Homo sapiens: one gene and its partners. The protein of the gene in region 5 interacts with the protein of the main gene of each other region in a biochemical or structural test. Each region holds a gene or a part of one and is shown on either strand. Other genes may lie near its edges.

The links.
Region 1: the proteins of SMURF2 (region 5) and RNF20 form a complex in vitro, tested with the Homo sapiens proteins (one study listed by BioGRID).
Region 2: the proteins of SMURF2 (region 5) and SCN9A interact in a surface display test, tested with the Homo sapiens proteins (one large-scale study listed by IntAct).
Region 3: of the proteins of SMURF2 (region 5) and ERBB2, one has a biochemical effect on the other in vitro, tested with the Homo sapiens proteins (one study listed by BioGRID).
Region 4: of the proteins of SMURF2 (region 5) and USP15, one has a biochemical effect on the other in vitro, tested with the Homo sapiens proteins (one study listed by BioGRID).
Region 6: of the proteins of SMURF2 (region 5) and RHOA, one has a biochemical effect on the other in vitro, tested with the Homo sapiens proteins (3 studies listed by BioGRID, with this or other methods).
Region 7: the proteins of SMURF2 (region 5) and NEDD8 form a complex in vitro, tested with the Homo sapiens proteins (one study listed by BioGRID).

The regions. Positions count from the first base shown.
Region 1 is NC_000009.12:101,536,853-101,540,352, reverse strand, and holds part of RNF20 (E3 ubiquitin-protein ligase BRE1A), read right to left. Parts: intron 151-3,500; coding exon 1-150. UniProt on the Homo sapiens protein: Component of the RNF20/40 E3 ubiquitin-protein ligase complex that mediates monoubiquitination of 'Lys-120' of histone H2B (H2BK120ub1).
Region 2 is NC_000002.12:166,369,445-166,372,944, forward strand, and holds part of SCN9A (sodium channel protein type 9 subunit alpha), read right to left. Parts: intron 1-3,500. UniProt on the Homo sapiens protein: Pore-forming subunit of Nav1.7, a voltage-gated sodium (Nav) channel that directly mediates the depolarizing phase of action potentials in excitable membranes.
Region 3 is NC_000017.11:39,710,064-39,713,563, forward strand, and holds part of ERBB2 (receptor tyrosine-protein kinase erbB-2 isoform a precursor), read left to right. Parts: intron 1-22; coding exon 23-138; intron 139-276; coding exon 277-418; intron 419-1,864; coding exon 1,865-1,984; intron 1,985-2,258; coding exon 2,259-2,385; intron 2,386-3,089; coding exon of another isoform or gene 3,090-3,206; intron 3,207-3,500. UniProt on the Homo sapiens protein: Protein tyrosine kinase that is part of several cell surface receptor complexes, but that apparently needs a coreceptor for ligand binding. Essential component of a neuregulin-receptor complex, although neuregulins do not interact with it alone.
Region 4 is NC_000012.12:62,266,904-62,270,403, forward strand, and holds part of USP15 (ubiquitin carboxyl-terminal hydrolase 15), read left to right. Parts: intron 1-3,500. UniProt on the Homo sapiens protein: Hydrolase that removes conjugated ubiquitin from target proteins and regulates various pathways such as the TGF-beta receptor signaling, NF-kappa-B and RNF41/NRDP1-PRKN pathways.
Region 5 is NC_000017.11:64,557,808-64,561,307, forward strand, and holds part of SMURF2 (E3 ubiquitin-protein ligase SMURF2), read right to left. Parts: intron 1-3,500. UniProt on the Homo sapiens protein: E3 ubiquitin-protein ligase which accepts ubiquitin from an E2 ubiquitin-conjugating enzyme in the form of a thioester and then directly transfers the ubiquitin to targeted substrates.
Region 6 is NC_000003.12:49,370,477-49,373,976, forward strand, and holds part of RHOA (transforming protein RhoA isoform 1 precursor), read right to left. Parts: intron 1-3,500. UniProt on the Homo sapiens protein: Small GTPase which cycles between an active GTP-bound and an inactive GDP-bound state.
Region 7 is NC_000014.9:24,225,868-24,229,367, forward strand, and holds part of NEDD8 (ubiquitin-like protein NEDD8), read right to left. Parts: intron 1-3,500. UniProt on the Homo sapiens protein: Ubiquitin-like protein which plays an important role in cell cycle control and embryogenesis via its conjugation to a limited number of cellular proteins, such as cullins or p53/TP53.

The DNA of each region.
Region 1 (3,500 bases), on a different chromosome or scaffold from region 5:
GACAATCAATAGTGAGGCATCATCAGTGGCCTGTCGTCGTTCCAGTTTTTCAATGTGCTCACGAAGTTCATCTTCAATGGCCTGCCGCTGATCCAACATTTCTGCCAGCTTGCGATTTTTGGTTTGCAGTGTTCTAATGTCTAGTTCCTCCTGCCCAGTAAACCAATCGTATTAGTCTCCACAAAGAAATAAGAAAAATGAGCCGTTAAACTCAACAAGGTCACAATTATTCATTAGTTATTTTCTATGAATAAAGCTATTGACTTTTAAAAAATCTTACAAGTAATTAAGAAGTAGAAGCAGAAGAGATAAACAACAGGTATATGATGGTGTGAGGAAAGAATAATACACACAAATACACCAGAACCTCAACCCATCTCGCTGTTCTAGTCACATAAACATCTACAAAGTAATGCTGCTTTAAGGCCACCATCCAGCTAGATCACCCTCGACTCCAATCAACACTGTCTTCTATCTCGTAAGCACCATCCTTCCTTCATTAAAGACTTCAGCACCTGGGTCCCTGTCTATCCCAGTTCCTGCCAATATATCTGGTGACTTCACCATACATGTGGACAAACCATCTAATCCTCTAGCATCTAGGCTGTCAGTTTTTCCAGTTCCTTCACTCCAAACATTATCTCCTCCACTGTGCTTCAGCCATGCACTTCAAAAGACACATCTCAGACTTTTGTCATTATCTGGAACTGTACCACATCTGAAATCTTATATTCCAACTTCCCATTCCCTGAAAAACACCACGTCTTTCCAGGTATCTCATGCCCTTAACCCAATATACCAATCCCTTTACCTCATCAAGATCTCCAGAATGTTGAATTCTTTTCTTTCTCCTTTTCGGTCTCCTTCTATCTCTGCTACCTTCCATATCTTAATCATATGCTATATAGTACATTCCTTCAAACACCTGCCTAACAGCCTCCTTGGTTCTCTGCCCTTAATCCTTTTATTCTATCTCTGTCAACAAACCCCAATCTGAATTAATCCAGTTATCTGGCTATTCCATTCCTGTACCCAGTATGCTGAGACTTCTAGAGAAGTTCATCAAACCACCGAAACCGGTGCCTTTACAAAATGAATTCTTAGCCTAAACAGATTTTATAATTTGTCTAGAAATATTTCTTTATCAAGTGAGCTATTTCCCATTCTCCAGCAAGGCAACATCAACCTCTACCAAACCCTGCCCCCTTTTACATCATACAAAACAGATGGCTTTACTTCCTATTTTAATGAGAAAATAGAAGCCATCAGATGGAAAACAATTCCCCATCTCTTTGACCCATTAACACAATTATGCACACATTCTTAAAACCTCAGCTTGTGCTCAGGATCCTGTTCTCTTCTGTCTCTACAAAACCCTCACTCCATTAGTAATTTCACATCCCTCTCAATATTTTTCTCTCTCCAGCTCCTTCCCTAGGACAAACCAGGGAGGGGTTGGTGGGAGGTGGGATTGGAGGATATAACAAGCAAAGAACCAGCATGTGGAAAAATAGTCTTACTTTTCTGAGGAATTAATGAAATCATTATTTTAAAGTGACAATTGTTTATTACACCACCAATTTTTGTTTCATTTTTCTCTTTTCCACTTTAATTAAAACATTCCTAATATGCCAAAGTAGTCAACAGTTTTCCCACTGTACCAGTTTATTAACACTATTAATAAACTATATCCTCAAACTCTTCTCTGAACATTGCCTTTCCCTTCTTGCTCTAACTGAAACTTGGATGAGAAACTGTTTCCCTGCAGGCTTCTCTAGTGGTGGCTGTTTCTCTTCCACACCCCTTGAAGCCAGAGAGGGATGAATATCCTCCTTATTTTCCATTGCCACTTCCAGGCCATTACCCCACCTTCCTCCCTAAAACCTCCTACCTCTGCAGCTCATGCCATTAGCCTATACCACCTGCCGCCATGCTCTGTTGAATTCATCTGTAAATGCCCACGTCGTTTCCTCACATTTCACAAAGACTTAGCACCTACCTTATTATCACTCTCCAATACTTTTCCTGTCATCATTCTTAATGATTTCAATACCCATACAGATAACCTTTCCTATACTTGAATCATCAAGTCACTGACCTCCTCTTCACCAATGATCTTGTCTTCTACCTCCTTCAGCCACCAACTCCCACATTTAGTCTTACTTGTACCTACATGTCCTCTATAAGCTCAATTTCAAACACCTCATTCTTCACAACTACCACTATTTTTCCAGCTCACTCTCTCCAGTTTCCTTACTCCAAAAATTCTTTAACCTCTCCAGGATCTACAATCCATTGGTCCTATACCTTTCACTTCTCTCACCTCCTTCTTTACTGAACTTAAATTCCATGATCAGTCATTATATAGTCATCTACTTTACAGCGATACTCCTTTATAAAGCATTGTCTCTACTCTCTTTTTCCTAATTCCTCTCCCCTCATATTCTCTTAAGCTCACTGAAAACAGGGTGCCATCCCCACTATTTCACCAACAAAGGTGTTTTGGTATCTCCAGTGAACTATTATTAAATATAACACCTCAGTCCTCCCTTTATTCCCCTTGTTCCAACTGAAACCTGAATGAGAACACATCAGCAGCACCTAATCAGCTCCTTCTTGAAATACTTTCTTCATTGAGCTTCTGGGAACCCATTCTCTCTTCCTATCCTCTTACCTCATTGGTCCCTCTTTGTTTGTATCTTTGATTAGTCCTTTCTCATTCCTTGACATGAAAATATTGTAGTGCCCCAGCAGACCTCTTTATGCTTATTCATTAAAGGAGTCTGTAGTCTCATAGATGTAAACACAACTTACAAAATGACGATTCCCAAATATACAGCTTTAGCCCAGACCTCTCTCTAGTATCCAGCTTATTAACTACCTATCCATTCAGAGGTCAAATAAGTATCTCAAACTTATATGTCCCAAACCAAACCAAACTCAATTCATCCTCCATGACTCCCAAAAATCTGCTCCTCTCATACACTTCTCTAGCTCAGTAAGTAAAAATTCCATTACTTTCAAAATCCTGGGATGATCCTCCCTCCTATCTTTCATGTGAGTTATCCAATCCATCAGCAGATCTTATCAATGCTACCTCCACAGTGGTCCAAGCCACCATGATTTCTCATTAAGATTACTGCAAAGGCCTCCTATAGCAAAAACTCTGTGCTAAGTCCTGTCAGCCTGCCAGATTTCAGCACAGCTGTGGTGGACAGCTCCATTTACACTGCCATTGTTCCCACTTCAAGCACACTTTGGAGACTCAGTTTTTCTGTCCCGCAATCACAGCTGGCTCCTAACAGCAATCTCAAAATGCACAGGAGGGACTGCTTTCAATGGCAACCTTCAACCAATTGGAGCGGGGATCAGTGGATACATGCCTCAGATCCCCACCTTTGGAGAGATGCAGTTATAGCGAAAGAGAGTAAGAAGAAGAAAAGAAAAAAGTCTGCTAGCTGGACTCTTGTTTATAATCCTTGCTTTTCTATAGTCTCCAA
Region 2 (3,500 bases), on a different chromosome or scaffold from region 5:
AGTCTGTCAGCTGATCTCATGGGATTATAAGAACCTTATTCCCAGTTGATCCCTGAGTAGGCCACTTCCCTTTTTCCTACCTGAATTACCATGAGCCAAGTTTGTAAATGGGGTAACAAGAATACATATTTTGTTAAGAGGGAAACAAATTCATCACTTCAACTTTATAATATTTTGTTCCATGCAAAGATCATTTACAAAGATTGGTCCCATAATATTTACCTAGAAGGAATCACTCAGATAAAGGCATCACTTACCAATAAAGCATTTAATTCATCCTATTCAAAATGTCCTCAATAAATTATCTTTACTCTGAGCCCTAAAAGATACACTGTCTATTAGACTTGAAAGAATAGTCATTTAGTAGAGCTTAAATCAATATATGAAATATAAATTTTAATTTTTTTGTAGAAACAGATTTTCCTTTTATTGCCCAGGCTGATCTAGAACTCCTGGATCAAGCAATCCTCCAGCCTCGGCCTCCCAAAGTGATGGGATTGCAGGGGTGACCAGCTGTGCCTGACATAATATTTTATTATCATGAAACATTTTTCTCATTTTTCCCTGTTTTACTCATCTGCATGGATTTGAATATCTACATTTACTTCTTTTTTCAAATTCTAAAGTATAGACTCTCAAGAAGATGACATATTTTTAAAATAATTACATTGGATTTAAAAACATATAGTGTAGGAGCAACTAGTAAAAGTTGACAGATACCACATCCAGTGAAATTACCCCCAGTTAAAATAATAATAATAATAATAATAATAATAATAATAATAATAATAATCATCATCATCATCATTAGATAATGGGCTGAGCGCGGTGGCTCATGCTTGTAATCCCAGCACTTTGGGAGGTCGAGGCGGGCGGATCACTAGGTCAGGAGATTGAGACCATCCTGGCTAACATGGTGAAACTCCGTCTCTACTAAAAATACAAAAACATTAGCCGGGCACGGTGGTAGGCGCCTGTAGTCCCAGCTACTCGGAGGCTGAGGCAGGAGAATGGTGTGAACCCAGGACGCGGAGCTTGCAGTGAGCCAAGATCGCGCCACTGCACTCCAGCCTGGGCGACAGAGCGAGACTCCGTCTCAAAAAAATAAAAAATAAAAAAAAAAAAGAATCTTTAAAAATCAGATAATACAGGGAGTCTAGGTGTGCATATAGCACATAAAATTTTTATTAAAAATCTTATGGGAATGTTTTTAATACTTATATTTTAATGCATGCTTCTAATCTTATTTATCTTTCTTTAGAGGCTCAATTTTCCAATTATTTGTACTAATAGTTTGACCTAAAAGTGGAGTAAAATTTGCCTTACTGGCGTACATATCAAACATTTGGAAGATGAGATGTAGGAGAGAAGAAGGAAAAAAAAAAAGAAAAAGGGCATTCATTGCAGGGCAGGATGCTAACTTAATTGTAAATGTACACACTCTTTCTAAATTTCCAAGTGAACAATCCTAGGTGCAATTAGAGCTTTATTGTATTTTGATAAATGATTCAGAAAGCTTTGTAAAAAATCCAAGGAGACATTTTAAAGAAATTTATGATCAGTAATAGCAGTCTCTCTAACACTTGACATAACAAGAGGAAATCATAAAATGAATAGCAAGGAAATTACAGTTAAAGTAACGTTAGGTTTCAACAGTAATATATGGCATTTTTGGCTCCATGTTATATCACTTTAAAAAATCTAAAGATAGTTCATCTCCTGTGTTAAAGAAACAACAACAACATATTTTTTGCTTACAGTAAGTTGTTATTTTAAAAAGAGACGTGGAAAGAACGGTTTTCTCTATAGAACTAAAAAGATATAGAATAATTCAGTTCTACATATGTCAATTCAAACTTGTCTGTGGCAGATTATGCTTACTGGCACTGTTCAAGGCATTCCCCTCTTCCTTCCCCACTTTATCATGGCCTGGCATTTTTCCTCACCACCCAGAAGGGTTTCATTCCTCCAAACTTCATTCCACCTTTAGCTGCCAAGAGCTGATGGCTTTTTCTTTTGCCTAAAGCCATTTCCTTCCAGCAAGGCAGAGGAAAGGGTAAGTGATACCTTCAATGAAGAAATTTCATTTTTTAGAATGGCAGGACACCAAAATTGTTATCTCATATTCCACAAAAGTATTCTACCCACATTCTCTGGATGCTCTCATAAATCCTCATATAAAATATTTTTATACAATTTTATAATATCTATTTTAATATGACCTTGCCTCTCAAGTGGTAATCTAACTCTACACAGTTCTAAAGGAAGATGTCATAATACTTCTGTAAAGAATAAATTAGCTAATTTGTGATGTGTAATATGAAGGACCATCTTCAATTAGTACACAGATGCCCTCCAATACAACATCCACAATATGTCCTCTTCAGAGCAAATTTTTAAAAATCCCTGCTCACAATTAGTGAAATAATTTAGTCCTTCAAGATGTAATGTGGTAACCAAATTATTTACCAAAAATCTGTGGCTGGCCATTTGCTACATAAAAAAATCATTAATCAGTTTGTCACCTAATTGAAAGCTAAATTTTCAACCAAATGTTAATAGCAAAACTAGTTGTTTGTTTAATATCTTTAAGCATAGTCTGCAAAAATAAAGGGGGGAGGCAAATCACCATACAAAGTGTGTGTGTGTGTGTGTGTGAGTGTGAGTGTGTGTGTGGTAAAATTCTAGTATGAAAATGACACAATCATTTATGAGCATGAAGTTTGCAGTCCTTACTTCCACTCTAATAACAGTGATGGGTCTTCATGGATAAGCCCACATTGCCTCTCTGAACCTTCCTTAGAGAATGCTTCAAATATTTGGATAATGTGCCCTTTGTACCTGGGGCAAACATCAATTTAGACCGTGTGGAAACCTAACTTATGGCCTCCGCCTCATCTGACTACATTTCTATCAACTGAGCTCACATAAGCATCTATGTTTATTTTAAAAGAATATTTTAAATTCATAGTCAGTGACTATTGACTGGCCCTCAAATTTCTGTTAGATGATACAGATTTAAACCTAACAAGGTTATCATTTTAGATTTGGAGTCACTTATAACCATATTAGTTTATGCAATCCAATTTTTTCTTAAAATATATTTTAATACATTTGTGGTCACTGCCTTTCTAAGAATGCATTACAAATTACTTACCTTTAAGTACATTATCACCTACACTGATAAAAGAGAGAATACATCTCAGGATATTTTAATTTTACCTCCTCAATATCATACCATGATATTGTAAAAATACTAAATGCTTGACAAATAAAAAATAGAATCACAAAATTCATGTTTCCAGGGTTAATATGCTTTATTCTGGAAGAATCCATATTTTTGTATTTTATTATTTATATAAATATCTACGAACCCCCTACTACTTGATGCCAGGCACTATTCTGGAAGCTAAGTCAACAATGAAGACATAGTCTGGGTTCCCTTGGAGTATTTGGTATGCAAATTCACAAAATACCTGCATGCTGTAACAAGCAGTATG
Region 3 (3,500 bases), about 25 Mb from region 5:
CATCCTGCCCTTTGCCCAACAGTGACGCGCACTGTCTGTGCCGGTGGCTGTGCCCGCTGCAAGGGGCCACTGCCCACTGACTGCTGCCATGAGCAGTGTGCTGCCGGCTGCACGGGCCCCAAGCACTCTGACTGCCTGGTATGTGCCTCTGCTTTGTGCCCAATGTGCTCTACCCCCCAGGATGCAAGGGGTGGGCACCCTGCCTGGTACTGCCCTATTGCCCCTGGCACACCAGGGCAAAACAGCACAGTGAAAGCCAGCCACCTGTCCCCCCAGGCCTGCCTCCACTTCAACCACAGTGGCATCTGTGAGCTGCACTGCCCAGCCCTGGTCACCTACAACACAGACACGTTTGAGTCCATGCCCAATCCCGAGGGCCGGTATACATTCGGCGCCAGCTGTGTGACTGCCTGTCCCTGTGAGTGCCAGGGAGAAACACAGTTTTCTCATTTTGGTGGGGAGGTTTGTTTCTGTAAATGGGAGCATATGGGGAGCACTGTCTGCATCTTGCTTTGAGAGCTGGTCATGACAGTTCCTGCCGAGCTGCCTTGTTCTTTCAACAGCTGTGGAGCAGGTGGCAGTAAGGAGAGGCAGCTAAGAGCCCAGACTTGGGAGCCAGACTGCCTGGGTTTGAAACCCAGCTCTATCAATTAGTAGGCACGTGACCCTCTTGCTGTGCCTCAGTTTCCTCATCAGTAAAATGGGGGCAAGAATAGTCCCAACTGCATAAGATGGTTATAACATTTGAAAGAGTTAATATTTGTAAAGCTCTTAGAACGGTGCCTGGTATGTACTAAGTGCTCCTAAATGTTAGCTTTTATTCTATAGCCTGGTGAGGTCAGTTTTACCTTTCGTTTTGTTTTTGAGACCGAATTTAGTTAGCTCTATCGCAGTGGCGCGATCTCGGCTCACTGCAACCTCCGCCTCCCAGGTTCGTGCTATTCTCGTGTCTCAGCCTCCTGAGTAGCTGGGATTACAGGCGCCCACCACCATGCCTCGCTAAATTTTGTATTTTTAGTAGAGACAGGGTTTCACCACGTTGGCCAGACTGGTCTCGAACTCCTGACTTCAGGCGATCCACCTGCCTCGGCCTCTGAAAGTGCTGGGATTACAGGCGTGAGCCACTGCACCCGGACTTTTTTTTTTTTGGCAGAGTCTCGCTCCATTGCCCAGGCTGGAGTGCAGTGGTGCAATTTTGGCTCACTGCAACCTCTGCCTTCCGCATTCAAGCAATTCTTGTGCCTCAGACTCTTGAGTAGGTGGAACTACAGGCATGCACCACCATGGCTGGGTAATTTTTGTATTTTTAGTAGAGACGGAGTTTCACTATGTTGGCCAAGCTGGTCTCGAACTCCTGACCTCAAGTGATCCACCCGCCTTGGTCTCCCAAAGTGCTGGGATTACAGGCATGAGCCATCGTGCCTGGCCTAGCTCAGTTTTATTTAACAGATCACCTATTTACTGATGGGCGTTTATGGACTGGGCTCAGACCTGGGGAACCTCTTTCCTCCTCTCACAGGAACAGGAGTGGGCCTTCAGATCCTGGCTGACTGTGTTAGGGAGAGGACAAAATGTAGAGCCAGACCATTTGGGTTCAAATCCTCGCTCCTCCACTCACTAGCACAATGACCTTGAATAATTTACAGAACTCTCTGCTTTGGTCTCCCTTTTTGCAAAATGGGAATCTCACAGTGCTGATCCCGTCTGGTTGTTGTGAGGGGTAAATGGATGTCAGGTGCTGATGCGTGGTAGGGCATTTAAGTATTGGTTGATATTATTCTTCTTGTGCCTGGGCACGGTAATGCTGCTCATGGTGGTGCACGAAGGGCCAGGGTATGTGGCTACATGTTCCTGATCTCCTTAGACAACTACCTTTCTACGGACGTGGGATCCTGCACCCTCGTCTGCCCCCTGCACAACCAAGAGGTGACAGCAGAGGATGGAACACAGCGGTGTGAGAAGTGCAGCAAGCCCTGTGCCCGAGGTACCCACTCACTGCCCCCGAGGCCAGCTGCAGTTCCTGTCCCTCTGCGCATGCAGCCTGGCCCAGCCCACCCTGTCCTATCCTTCCTCAGACCCTCTTGGGACCTAGTCTCTGCCTTCTACTCTCTACCCCTGGCCCCCCTCAGCCCTACAAGTGTCCCTATATCCCCTGTCAGTGTGGGGAGGGGCCCGGACCCTGATGCTCATGTGGCTGTTGACCTGTCCCGGTATGAAGGCTGAGACGGCCCCTTCCCCACCCACCCCCACCTCCTCAGTGTGCTATGGTCTGGGCATGGAGCACTTGCGAGAGGTGAGGGCAGTTACCAGTGCCAATATCCAGGAGTTTGCTGGCTGCAAGAAGATCTTTGGGAGCCTGGCATTTCTGCCGGAGAGCTTTGATGGGTAAGAGTGGGCACGATGACCTGAGACAGTGTCAGGGCAGACAGAGTCCTGAGGATCCAGATGTGGCAGCATCTCTTGGGGATGGCAGGAGACAGAAGTGGGGGGATCAAGAATGCAAAGAAAGCAGATGGGAGACCAGAGGAGCAGGGCCTTTGGTGGGTGGGGGTGATTATTTTTGTAAATGACATGCTATCCGTGAACAAGGACTTGTATGGAGGTCAGACCATCTAGATAAAGTAAAATTCCCTTTGAGTTCATAGCAGCTTTATTCAAAATATCCCCAAATTGGAAATAACTCAAATGTGCATCACTAGGTGAAGGAATAAACAAGTGGCAGTGTATCCATTTGGTGAAGTTCTACTTAGCAACCAAAGGAAATGAACTACCGATACAACATAAATGAATCTCAGAAACATTACATTGAGCAAAAGAAGCCAGAGACAAGATTCCATACTGTCTGATCCCCTTTATGTGAGGCTCTGAACCGAAAAAACCACTCTGTGGTGGGAGAGATCAGAACGGTGGTTGCCCCAGGGTGGGGGGCTTCAAAAGGGAGGCACACAAGGACATTTCTGGGGTAATAGAAATGCTCTGTATAGTGATTGGGGTAGTGGATACATGAGCGAATCCATTTGTCAAAACTCATCAAACTGTGTGATAAGAGTCTGTGCATTTTATTTATTTCATTTTATTTTTTGAGATAGAGTCTCACTCTGTCAGCAGGCTGGAGTGCAGTGGTACGATCTTGGCTCACTGCAACCTCTGCCTCCTGGATTCAAGCAATTCTCCTGCCTCAGTCTCCTGAGTAGCTGGGACTACAGGTGTGTGCCACCATGCCCAGCTAATTTTTGTATTTTTAATAGAGATGGGGTTTCACCATGTTGGCAAGGATGGTCTCGATCTCTTGACGTCGTGATCCGCCCACCTCAGCCTCCCAAAGTGCTGGGATTACAGGCATGAGCCACCACACCCGGTGCATTTTATTGTATATAAGTTATACTTCAATAAGAAATGAATTGGGGCCAGGCACGGTGGCTCACGCCTGTAATCCCAGCACTTTGGGAGGCCGAGGCAGGCAGATCACTTGAGGTCAGGAGTTCAAGACCAGCCTGGCC
Region 4 (3,500 bases), on a different chromosome or scaffold from region 5:
ATCTTTGATGATTTCAGAGCTGGTTTAAATACCTGGTTTATAAAGATTTAAAGTACTAGATACTATCTAATACTAAGAATAGATCCTTAGTATTAAAAATGGTTTTATGCTGTCACTACTCGAATGTAATTCAAACAATATTTCATTAAACCATGGGAATTTCTCTTTTTTCTTAGTCCTTGTATAGAATTTTTCAACAATTACTAAATACTTTTTTTCTTCCCTGAGTAATGTCAGTCTAGCTTGTTTCTTTTAATTTCCTCACTTACCACTGTAATTCACATTCTGTGTCTCATATTCATTCCTCTGAAGCCACTTCGCCAGACTCGTTCTCCCATTTATCCTTTAAACAGGGGAATGTAGATCCTTTAGATTTTATCACCCAGTTTACACAAAAGTCACTATTCAAGAAATCTAGCATAAGCCTAGTAAGTAGCCTCAGTTTTGGATACAGATTAAAATTATTTGAGGGAAGGGTCAAAAATGGCTCCTTACAAAGAAGGAAATAAGTTCCAATTATAATATAAAACAGAAAACCCCTGTAGGATTAACCTGCATTTGATTATGTCTAGACTGCCTTTACTACTTCCATCACTAAGATTCTACATGGTTTCCTTATAGCTCTCCAAAAAGAAAAGAGTAATGATGCCTTTTTTTCCTCCAAGGAATGGAGAACTAAGAATGCTAACTGTCCCTTCCATTCTCCCTTTAGTTTTGAGAAGACCCAGATATTAGCGTGGTAATTCCCCACCATAAGAGAAAATCATTTAGCAGAAGTACCAGTAGCAAGGACTTCTTTGTGAAGGAAGTCAAAGATCTCACAAAGAAGTTCAAGGGTGGCTCTGAGGCCAGGGTATTCTAAGTTTAGAGCCAGTTAAATCAAGACCTGAGAACATTTAGAGACAAAGTTACTTAACTGAAAAGAGCATCAAGTTCCTTGTTCCAGGTAGAAAACACCTGGTAATCTGGATTGATTTCTGTTATTTACCCATATGTTTTTACAGCTTAACAAAGTTTAACAGGTTAGTCAAGAGATTTGCCTTTGATAAAAAGATGGGAAATTTATATTCATACATTTGAATGGATTTCAAGCTGAAGAACTTTTTAATTCTCAGGAGAGATGTAGCTAAGTATTTATATGTACCACATAGTTGTGGCTATGGTTTACAATAACTTATTACTCATTTACTATGTTAAGAGCATTTTAAAAGTTCTCTAGATACAGGTTCCATATATAATGTAATATATTTATTCCAAATATATTACATATATGAAATACATGGTAGTATTCTCATTTTACCAGTACAGAAACTGGGATAGTTAAATGTATATGGTCATAACACTTAGTCAGTGGTAGAGCAGGAGGTCTAACTTAAAGCTTGCATTTTAAATTCTAAGTGTACTGCCTGCCTATGTGTGATAGAGCCATACCCAGATTATGGAAGCAACTTTTTGAAAGACAAATACTTGAAAGTATTAAAATCAAGAAATGACAGCTTTGTAATACTTGTTAAACACATTTTCATTTGTTATTAATATCAAGAGCCTCTAGAATTTTGTGAGTCTTCTTGTTTTAGCCTTGTAGTCTCAGCAGTCTCATTTCTAATTAACATATCTCTGTTTTGATACAGATAGTGTCTCCCATTTCCTGCAAATTATTTGCTTTTTCCTGCTTTTGGGGCCTTTATGCCCCATTTCTGTTGTTTCAGATACTTCTTAAAAATTACTGACTTTCATTTCAAAACCTAGTTCAAAGTCAGTCTCTAAAACCACCTCTAATCTCATCCAAATTTGTGGCCCCTCCATTCTTTGCTTTTAAAATATATATGTATATATAAAACAGCTTTATTGTGATGCTATTCACATACCTTACAATTTGCCCACTTAAAGTGGACAGTTCACTGGGTTTTAGTATACTCGAAAGAGTTGTGCAGCCATGACCATAATCAATTTTGGAATCCAAAAAGGAACCTCATACCCATTAATAGTCACCTCCCATTTCTCTCCCAAACTCCTCTGTTCTAGGCAGCTACTAATCTATTTTCTGTCTTTATATATTTGCCTATTCTGGATATTTTATATAAATGGAATCGTATAGTATGTGCGATTTTTGCATCTTGCTTCTTTTACTTAGCATACATGTTTTCTAGGTTCATGCATGTTATAGCATATATCAATGTTTATTTTTACTGCTGAATGATACAGTCATGAGTCACTTAATGACAAGGATAACTTCTGAGAAATGTATGGTTAGGCAATTTTGTCGTTGTGTGAACATCTTAAGGGGGTACTTACACAAATCTAGATGGGATTGCCTACTACATACCTAGGATGTATTGCCTATTGCTCCTAGGCAAAAAAAACCTGTACAACATGTTACTGTAGTGCATACTGTAGTCAATTCTAATACAATGGTAAGTATATATATATGTGTGTGTGTATAAATATATATATGTGTGTGTGTGTATATATATATATCTAAACATAGAAAAGGTAGAGTAAAAATACAATATTATGATCTTTTTTGTTTTTAGAGACAGGGTCTGGCTCTGTCACCCAGACTGAAATGCAGTAGCCCAATATTGGCTCACATTGCCCTTGATCTCCTGGGCTCAAGCAATTCCACTGCCTCATCCTCCCAATTAGCTAGGACTACAGGCAAGCACCACTGTGTCTATTTTTTATTTTTATTTTTTTGTAGAAATGAGGATCTTGCTGTGTTGCCCAGGCTGGTCTTGAACTCCTGGCCTCAAGCACTCCTCCCACCTTAGTCTTCCAAAGTGTTGGGATTATAGGCATGAGCCACTGTGTCTAGCCAGACATAATGTGTCTGTTATTGACCTAAATGTTGTTATGTGGTATGTGACCATATTCCATTGTATAGATATAACACATTTGATATATCCATTTATCAATTGATAGACATTTGAATTTCCAATTTTTGCCTATTTTGAATAATCCTGCTATGAACATCCATTACAAGTTTTCATTTCTCGTGTATATACCTGTAAGTGGAATTGCTAGGTCCCTGTTTAACTTTTTAAGGAACTGCTAGACTGTTTTTCTAAGTGGCCGTAATTTTACATTGCCACCAGCAGTGTATGAGGGTTCCAGTTTTTTCACCTCGTCAGCACTTATGTTCTTTTTTTTAATATATAGCCATCTTAGTGGATATGAAGTAGTATCTCATTGTAGTTTTGATTTGCATTTTCTTGATAGGTAATGATGTTGAGTATCTTTTCACCTGCTTATTGGCCATTTGTATGTCTTTTGGATGTCTGTCCAGATTCTTTGCCCATTTAAAAAATTTGGTTATTTTGTCTTTTTATTATTGCATTGTAAAAGTTCTCTAGATACAGGTTCCTTATTAAATAGTTAATTTACAAATTTTTCTCCCATTCTGTGGATTTTCTTTTTACTTTCTTGGTAGTGTCCACTGAAACATGGAAGTTTTTATTTTATTGAAATTCAATTTGCCTGTTTTTTCCTTTGTCACTTTT
Region 5 (3,500 bases):
ATAATTATTTAAATTAATAAAAGGCAAAAAAGCACTAACTACAGTTATATAAGATCACATTGGAAAAATCTACCGTACCCAAATAGCATATAAAAACTCTATTATATTGAAGTAACATCTCACGCAAAATTTAGGCAATTTTATTATATTTTAGCATCAAAGAGTATAAAAGTATTATCCAACAGTTCAGCTACTCACGAGATGATACGGTCCAGTGGTCTGTTACTTTTAATTGCCAAATAAATTTGTAATCCATAATAAACATAAAACAAAAGGAAGAATATGGTTTTATTTCAAAATGTCCATGTGAGGCTGGGGACGGTGGCTCACACCTGTAATCCCAGCACTTTGGGGGGCCAAGACAGGTGGTTCGCTTGTGCTCAGGAGTTTGTGACCAGCCTGGGCAACAAGGCGAAATCCCATCTCTACAAAAAATACAAAAATTAGCCAGGTTGATGGCAAGTGCCTATAGTCCCAGCTACTTGGGAGGCAGAGGTGGGAGGATTGCTTGAGCCCTGGAGGTTGAGGCTGCAGTGAGCTGAGATTGCACCACTGCACCCCAGGCTGGGTGACAGAGACCCTGTCTCAAAGAAAAAAAAAAAAAGTCCACGTCATCTCTATTATCCTGGTCTACTCCTATCACGACCAGTTTATACAGACATATAATATAGTATTGATTTACTCTTCATTTTGGACAAGGCTATATTTTGTTGTAGTATTAAGGACATTTCATTATTCATTTCATTATCATTCACTGTATAAACCCTGAAACATACCATGATAAAAATATAAGTGGGCAAGGATTGCAAGGCATTTGGTGTAGGTATGGACTCAAGGGCAAACGTGCATTCTTTGGGTATGTTCCATACCACTTCTTGACTTCAATGTAAATCAATGTTTTTAAAACCTGGAATAAAAAGTACTTCCACCTTGAATTTATTAAAACCTTCAAATTTTTCAAAGTATAAAAGATAATTTGTTACTCACTTTGGAAATTCACTAGTCTAGGACTTAAGAGATGTAGTTCTAGTCTTAATTCTTGTCATTCCTTGGCTAGGGAAGGTTATTTAAATGATATATTTTGATATTATGGATTAAACAGATTGAATAATATTTTTGAGCAAATGCAGAATAGTATTAAAACTAGTTAAAGGAAACTGTTTCAAAATTCTATGTGATGGAGTCTAAATTAAATTACTACCATTATGTAACATTTGAAAAACTACTCTAGAGATTAAAAAAAGAAGTAACGTCTCCACATAAGCAGCCTTCCCAACATAACACTCATCTGATGTGTCTTGTGTTTTTGGTGTGTGTATGTGTTTTTTAAAAAGAAAATCCAAATTTTTGTTTTGTTTTACCAAGTATTTAGAACACAAATAAGAGCAGAACTCAACTACTTTGAGATTCTACTATGGAATAAAGTTCAGAAAAAGCAGATCACTGTCACATTCCATTTATTCTGCTCAAACCCTGACAGTAGTAAGGTTAAAAAACAAAAAACTGGGCTGGGTTCGGTGGCTCATGACTGTAATCCCAGCACTTTGGGAGGCTAAGGCGGGCAGATCACAAGGTCAGGAGATTGAGACCAGCATGGCCAACATGGTGAAACCCCGTCTCTATTAAAAATACAAAAATTAGCTAGGCGTGGTTGTATGCGCCTGTAGTCCAGCTACCCGGGAGACTGAGGCTGGAGAATCGCTTGAACCCAGGAGGCAGAGGTTGCAGGGAGCCGAGATTGCGCCACTGCACTCCAGCCTGGCGACAGAGTGAGATTCCATCTCAAAAACAACAACAACAAAAAAAACTGACTACGAGCCAGGCATGGTGGCTCGCGCCTGTAATTCCAGCACTTAGGGAGGCGGAGGCTGGAGGATCACTTGAGGCCAGGAGTTTGAGACCAGCCTGGGCAACACAAGATCCTGTTTCTACCAAAAAAAAAAAAATTTTTTTTTTTTTGAGACGGAGTCACACTCTGTCACCAGGCTGGAGTGCAGTAGCACGATCTCGGCTCAGTGCAACCTTTGCCTCCTGGGTTCAAGTGATTCCCCTGCCTCAGCCTCCCGAATAGCTGGGACTACAGGTGTGCGCCACCATACCCAGCTAATCTTTTTTTTTTAGTTTTTAGTAGAGACGGGGTTTCATCATGTTGGCCAGGATGGTCTCAATCTCTTGACCTCGTGATCTGCCCACCTCAGTCTCCCAAAGTGCTGGGATTACAGGTGTGAGCCACTGCACCTGGCCAAATTTTTTTTTTTTTAATTAGGCATGGAAGCATGTGCCTATAGTCCTAGCTCTTTAGGAGGCTGAGGCAGGAGGATCACTTGTACCTAGGAGTTCGAAGCTGCAGTGAGCCATGATCACACCACTGCACTCCATGGAGCCTGGGTGACAGAGTGAGACCCCGTCTCTAAAAAACTAAATAAATAAAATAAACTACTTATTTGATCTATACATATAATTATAGTACTTAGATGCCACCAGTAGTTGATGATGAAGTGTTCCCAATAAACATTCACTCTAGTTATGAGTAAGTAATACAAATTCCACAGAAACTGTCAAGTCCTAAGTATGATGTACAAGGGATTATTTTTAAAAATCCACACTAAAGAAACTATCCATCCGTAGGTTTAAAAGGTGACAGAATGAAAATAAGGCTACAAATACACACATGTAATGCTAAATAACAATTAATGGGAATTATTGAAAACATAATTTTGGTTGGATTTAAGATTAGGGAAAGCAGAATTACCACAATGATCCTTGGAACATTTCAATACAGAGCTACAGTGTTTCTCCATTTATATAAAACGAATTTTCACACATAGAAAAGAATTCTTGTAGTAAATATAATATCAGAAATAAATCACTGGCTGGGTGTGGTGGCTCACACCTGTAATCCCAGCACTTCGGAAGGCTGGGGCAGGCAGATTGTTTGAGCTCAGAAGTTCGAGAATAGCCTGGGCAACATGGCAAAACCCCATCTCTACAAAAAAAAAAAAACAAAAACTAGCCGGGTGTGGTGGCTTGTACCTGTAGTCCCAGCTACTCAGGAGGCTGAGGTGGGAGGCTCTCTTGAGCCCAGGATGGGGAGGTTGCAGTGAGCTGAGATCACGCCACTACACTCCAGCCTGGGTGACAGAGGGAGACCCTGTCTCCAAAAAAAAAAAAAAAAAAAAAAAGAAAGAAAATTAATTTGACTTGACCTGTGAGTTACAAATGTAGCAGAAGCATTCTACCTTCTGTACTGAAACATTCTGAGGACCATCATGATATGTACATGTGTATACACACATGCATGCATACACATTCATTTAACAAGGAAAAAAGGCATAACAAATGGAAGCAAAGAGAACCAGTATTCAGTTCAGGTTATATATCATTTAAATCTCAAAACTGTTCCTGACAATGTAAAGCAGAGGCAATAATGTACTTAAAGAGAGAGATGGAGAAAACACAGGGCCTGCAGTCTCATGGGACTCAGATGGTCTACTGGGGAG
Region 6 (3,500 bases), on a different chromosome or scaffold from region 5:
GAAACCATGGAAACAAATCTGTATTTTGAGTTGGTAGGTAGGAAAAGACACCATGCTGGCTGTTAGGCAAGGCCTGAGATGACAGGAAAGCCCTTTTGGCTGTGCCTTTACTACTCAAGAAATGTCTGAAATAATGCATCACGTAAGGTGAGAGAGTACTCCTTTCACATCCGGGTACATCCTCACCCTCCTGTGGTAGAAGGGTAAACTGATGCCTGGGCTCTGAATACAAGTCCCATTCAACACTGCCCAGCACTGCACCCAGCTCTGCTACCCCATTCTTATCACCAGACTCCATGTTAAACATCCTCTGTACAGAGGCCCTTTGAGGCCCAAGAGGTCTCCCTCCAATACTTGGAACACATCTTTCTTCTCTTAGCACCTTCACAGCCCAAATTTCAGTTTCTAAATGATTTCTTCCTTAAAATTGATGGCTCTTCCACCCCCGAACTTTTGCCCCAGGATGCATCACAAATAACCTCCACAAGGCCCACTGTACTTCTGTCATGCAAACCATCATTCTGGCATGTGTAACTAAGATATACTGATGCCCAATTATCACAATCTGTCTGCCCTCACAATAATGGAGCTCATTTACTCCCTGGCAAATCCCACTCTCCCGGCCCCCTCCACCCCACGGTGTTTAGTCATATATCCAGCCTCTATTGGCGCTTGATAAAATGCTTCCAAGATGTTGAGTCTGTCTCATATCAAAAGGGGCCTTTTCATTGTGAGCAGGCCTACTCTTGGTACCATGATCACCTACAATCTTGTATGGTTCCCTAGGCTGTACTATTGCCTACTGTTTTTTTTTTTTTTTGAGACAGAGTTTCGCCCTTGTCGCCCAGGCTTGAGTGCAGTGGCGCAGTCTCAGTTCACTGCAACCTCTGCCTCCCAGGTTCAAGTGATTCTCCTGCCTCAGCCTCCCAAGTAGCTGGGATTACAAGTGCCTGCCACCACGCCCAGCTAATTTTTTGTATTTTTAGTAGAGATTGGGTTTTGCCATGTTGGGCAGGCTGGTCTCAAACTCCTGACCTCTGGTGATCCTCCTGCCTCAGCCTCCCAAAGTGCTGGATTACAGGTGTGAGCTACGACGTCTGGCCTTATACTATTGCATACTGTTAAATGAATATTCCTACACAGTACCCTCTCCCATCTTGGGGACTCTTGAGTTGCTCTGAGGCAGGCAGGTAGCCTGTAATATGCTCTTCAATCAAACACTTTTATTCCAGGGGACTCTCCTCAAGTGAGAACCTCCCCCTATCTTGCGAGGGTCAGTGATGTCCAAGGTTTGCAGCACAAGAAAAATACTCACAGACCATGCCTCAAGGTTTTAAGTCAAGGTCTCTAAATTTCTTATGGGCAAGATTCTGGTTGTTCCAAGATGCCCAGGCAGAAATAATGTTTCCAAGAGAACCAAAGAGCTGCTTCCAAAACATACATACTGCCACAGATGGAAAAGACCCTTCCAGTTCATGCTTACAGACATGCAGCAATTAACAGCCACTCTCTGGAGAAAATGTTAGGATACAACCAGTAATATACATTCACTACTAGGCTTTTGAGAAATAAGCTATGAAAATGCCAACCTGACATTGCTTCCCCAAGCCAATGGATCTTTCTATGTATGGTGCATCAATCTAAGTTAGGTAAGAGGGCTATAACTTGACACCAATCCTGAAGATGTCATCACATTTCTACCTAGTTTGTCACAACTGGGCCCTGTGTCCATATAAAACCAGTTTTCCTATCAGGACCACAAAAACACCTATGTCCAAGCATCCATGCTTGGCTGAGGCTGAATTAACACCCTCTGTATTGGTTTGCCACCTTCAGGGTACATCCCAAAATTCTGTTAGGCTGGTATTTGTTGTATTTTTTCCATCTATACTTGGGCCAGAAAGTATCTTAGAGTTCCTATTAGCATAAGAGCAATCATCGTGGCTCACTCTGTATTTGAATAAAAAAGAGCACAAACTATAGGACGGGCGCAGTGGCTCACGCCTGTAATCCCAGCACTTTGGGAGGCAGGCAGATCACGAGGTCAGGAGATCCAGACCATCCTGGCTAACACGGTGAAACCCTGTCTCTACTAAAAATACAAAAAACTAGCCAGGCGTGGTGGCGGGCGCCTGTAGTCCCGGCTACTCCGGAGGATGAGGCAGGAGAATGGCGTGAACCCAGGAGGCAGAGGTTGCAGTTAGCAGAGATCACGCCACTGCACTCCAGCCTGGGCGACAGAGCGAGACTCTGTCTCAAAAAAAAAAAAAAAAAAAAGGACTACAAACTATGAAAGAGGGTTTTGAACATGGCAGTATTCATCTCTTAGAAAGCGCTTTGGTGCTGCCAAACATTTTCCGTTACTTCACAGAACCTTGATGTCACCTATAAAAACCGTTTTACAAATGAGGAAGGCTCAAAGGTCAGGAGCTTACTGATGGTCAAACAACTATCAGGAAGCCCTACAATGAGGGACCCTGGAGTTCTGAGCAGCTGATCTAACCCACATTCCTCACACAGTGCCACAAAAGGAGGCTAGGTGGCCCTAGGACAGAAAGAAATAAGTAATGTGGACAAGTAGAAGTGGCCAGGCACGGTGGCTCATGCATGTAATCCCAGCACTTTGGGAGGCCAAGGCGGGCGGATCACCTGACGTCAAAAGTTCGAGACCAGCCTGGCCAACATGGCGAAACCTCGTCTCTACTAAAAATACAAAGATTAGCTGGGCTTGGTGGCAGGCACCTGTAATCCCAGCTCCTCGGGAGGCTGAGATAGGAGAATTGCTTGAACTCAGGAGGCGGAGGTTGTTGTAAACCAAGATCATGCCATTGCACTCCAACCTGGGTGATAGAGGGAGACTCTGTCTCTAGACAAACAAACAAAAACAAAGTAAGAAAGGAGAAAGGGGATGAATGGAAGCTAATATATCAAGTGTTAGCAGCATATGAGACATATAACTGAATGCTCAAGAAAAATGAGAATGTTGGAGAAGAGCACCTCATTCTAGTTTTAGGGGTTTTTTCCTTTCAGCTGACCCACTTCAAAAGATGTATAGGAGAGCTGGGCACGCTGGCTTGCGCCTGTAAGCCCAGCCACTTGGGGCTGAGATGGAAGAACTTGAGCCCAGTTGTTTGAAACCAGCTGGACCAACACAAGACCTCATCTCTAAAAACATAAATTACCCAGGTGTGGTGGCACATACCTACAGTGCCAGCTATTTGGGAGGCTGAGGTGGAAGGATCACTTGAGCCCAAGAGTTCAAGGCTGCATGATCATGTCACAGCACTGCAGGCCTGGGAGACAAAGTACAATCCCTGTCTCTTTATTTAAGAGAAAAAAAAAAAAGTATGAGAGGCCAAGCAAAGCATTACTTAGACAACAAAAGGAAGCAGAAGATTAAAAAAAAAAACAAAAACAAACCAAAACCAAAATTAAAACCCAAAAAAACCCTCCAATTTCACAAGAGCTTTGTTCCAGTCTTGCCAGAGGGCTTTTAGGAC
Region 7 (3,500 bases), on a different chromosome or scaffold from region 5:
GTCTCTACTAAAAATACAAAAAAATTAGCTGGGTGTGGTGGCACGCACCTGTATCCCAGCTATGCAGGAGGCTGAGGAGGAGAAATGCTTGAACCCAGGAGGTGGAGGTTGCAGTGAGCAGGGATCACGCCACTGCACTCCAGCCTGGGTGACAGAGTGAGACTCCATCTCCAAAAAAAAAAAAAAGATGAACCTAAACCTAACATACTGCCCTAGGCACTGGAGGAAATACAAAAGAAATGTGATCCAGCCCTGCCAACAATCTTTATCAAGCGAAGATGTACAACCAAGAAACAATTAGACATAAAATTAATAGAATAAGGCTGTATACAAGGAAGTTCTGGCTGGGCACAGTGGCTCACGCTTGTAATCCCAGCAGTTTGGGAGGCTGAGGCAGGTGGATCACTTGAGGTCAGGAGTTCGAGACCAGCATGGCCAACATGGCAAAACCCTGTCTCTACCAAAAATACAAAAAAATTAGCTAGGCATGGTGGACGCTTGAACGAAGGTGGAGGTTGCAGTGAGCCGAGATCGTGCCACCGCACTCCAGCCTGGGTGACAGAGGGAGACTCCATCTCAAAAAAAAAAAAAAAAAATTAAAAATTAAAAACAAATCAAAACAAAACAAAACAAAAGGAAGTACTATATTGTCCAAACACAAGGGGCAATGACTAAGTGCTATGGTGAATGAAAATCAATGTTAATCAATTTAAGCCTTGAATGAGATAACATTATATAACACTAGATATAGTGTTTTAATTTATATAACATTATAACACTATAATAGCCAAAATAAAAATGACTGACATCAGCATTTTTATGGTGCTACAAGGGTACCGTCTAGTAAGGGTACAGAGCAACTGGAATGCTCATACACTGCAGGTGGGAATATAAAATGGTACAAACCCTTAGTTTCTTTTTAAAGTTACATATATCTACCACATGACCTAGTAATTTCATTCTTAGGTATTTATCCAAAGGAAATAAAAACATATGTTTACAAAAACACTCGTATAACAATGTTCATAGAAGACTTTTTCATAATAGCCAGAAACTGGAGATAACTCAAACACCCATCAACAGGAGAATGGATAAACAAATTATGATATAATTCATCCAATGGAATACTATTCAGTAATAAGAAGGAATAAACCACAGATTACAGTAGACATTATGCAGAATGAAAGAAGCCAGATACAAAAATTGTACATTCAATAATTCCATTTATATAAAGTTCTAAAACAAGCAAAACTAACCTATGAAACTCTTGAGGGGGTAGGAATACAAATGTTTAGATTTTGTAATTACATGAACGTATGCTATTGTCAAAAACTCACTGAACTAAACCCTTAAGAACTGTGCATTTTACTGTATGTTAAAAAACATGAATGAGAAAACTGATTCACACAGTAAAGACAGTTGCCAAAGTAATCTGCAATGAGGAAATCAATGAAGGATCTGGGGTTAGGGAGTAATATAATGAAAAAGAAGCTAAAGGAAGACCTGCACATTATGGTTTTGTACGTCATGTCTTGGTTTAGACTACACTTTAGAGGGGATATGACGGTAGGAAAACCTGGTTGGATGTATTACAGAGACATAAACATATAAATGAGTAAGACCCGAGACCAGAATGAGGGTAATGGAGATGGAAACAAAAATCAAACAGAAAGAGCTTTTAAGTGAAAAATTAGATCTTATAAAAGGACCACGTAATTTTAAATGACTCTAAAGAATTGTATTCCAGACACCTGAATGATTGATGGGATTAATACACGAGATGGGTATTGGGATATGGCTTATGACAGAAGATGATGCATTTAATTTTAGAACCATAGAGACAAGGTAACAAGATTTAAATCAGGAAGAATTTAATTGTAAAATCTTATAGAAAAATATGGAAGAAGTCAGCTACACAGAGACAGCAGTTGAAAATGAATCATTCGGCTGGGCATGGTGGCTCACGCCTGTAATCCCAGCACTTCGGGAGGCCAAGGCAGGTGGATCACTTGAGCTCAGGAGTTCAAGACCAGCCTGGGCAACATGGTGAAACCCCACCTCTACTAAAAATACAGAAAATCAGCCAGGTGTGGTGGCATGTACCTGTAGTCCCAGCTACTTGGGAGGCTGAGTTGGGAGGATCCCTTGAGCCTGGGAGGTGGAGGTTGCAGTGAGCCGAGATCATACCACTGCACTCCAGCCTGGGTGACAGAGTAAGAATGTCTCAAAACAAAAACAAAATGAGGCCAGGCGCGGTGGCTCATGCCTGTAATCCCAGCACTTTGGGAGGCTGAGGTGGGTGGATCACCTCAGGTCAGGCGTTCAAGACCAGCCTGGCAAACATGGCGAAACCCCGTCTCTACTAAAATACAAAAGTTAGCCGGGTATGGTGGTGGGCACTTGTAGTCCCAGCTACTTGGGAGGCTGAGGCAGGAGCATCGCTTGAACCCAAGAGGCGGAGGTTGCAATGAGCCAAGATCGTGCCACTGTACTCCAGCCTGGGCGACAGAGTGAGACTCCATCTCAAAAGCAAAACAAAACAAAAATAATAATAATTCAAAAAGGGGTCAGATATGGTAGCTCACGGCTGTAATCCCAGCACTTTAGGAAGATGAGGTGGGAAGATCACTTGACCCCAGAAGTTTTAGACTAGCGTGGGCAACACGATGAGACCGCATCTCTACAAAAAAATAAAACAATTGGCTGGGTATGGTGGTAGCACACGCCTGTAGTCCCAGCTACTCAGGAGGCTCAGATGGGAGAATTGCTTGGGCCTGAGAGGTCGAGGCTGCAGTAAGCTGTGATGGCACCACTGCACCCTAAGCCTGGGCGACAGAGTGAGAACCTGTCTCAAAAAAAAAAAAAAAAAAAAAAAGGAACTGTAATAAAAAATGTCACTTATATGGTAATTAACAGCTCTTTTTTTTCTTTTTTAAATTAATATTTTCTTCAGATCAGATTAACAGCTATCTCATGTGTAACTACTTTCCTATGTATTTAATTAAGAAATGCAACAAACAAGAGGGGATGGGGCGAGAGGGGGAGATAGAGAGAGATGGGGCACAGAGGCCTGTTTGAAGGCAGAAGGGTGTTGCAGGAAAGAAGACTGGCAATTTTAGAGAAGTACCACATAAATATGGATTCAAAGAAACAGAAAAAATCTAGAATCTTGCTATTCAAAGTGTAGCTCTCAGACATTCAATATCACCTGGGAGTTTGTGAGAAATGCAGAAACCTGTGCCCCACCTTAGACCCACAGAATCATAATCAGCATTTTAGCAAGACCACAGGTGATAGGACACTGTATTTTCAAGTTTCCACACACAGCATTGATTTTTTTGTTCAAACAGTTATTTTATTTATTTATTTTTTGAGACAGTCTCACTCTGTTGCCCAGGCTGGAGTGCAATGGCACGATCTTGGCTCACTGCAACCTCTGCCTCCCAGGTTCAAGCAATTCTCCTGCCTCACCCTGTCAAGTGGCTGGGACTACAGGTGTG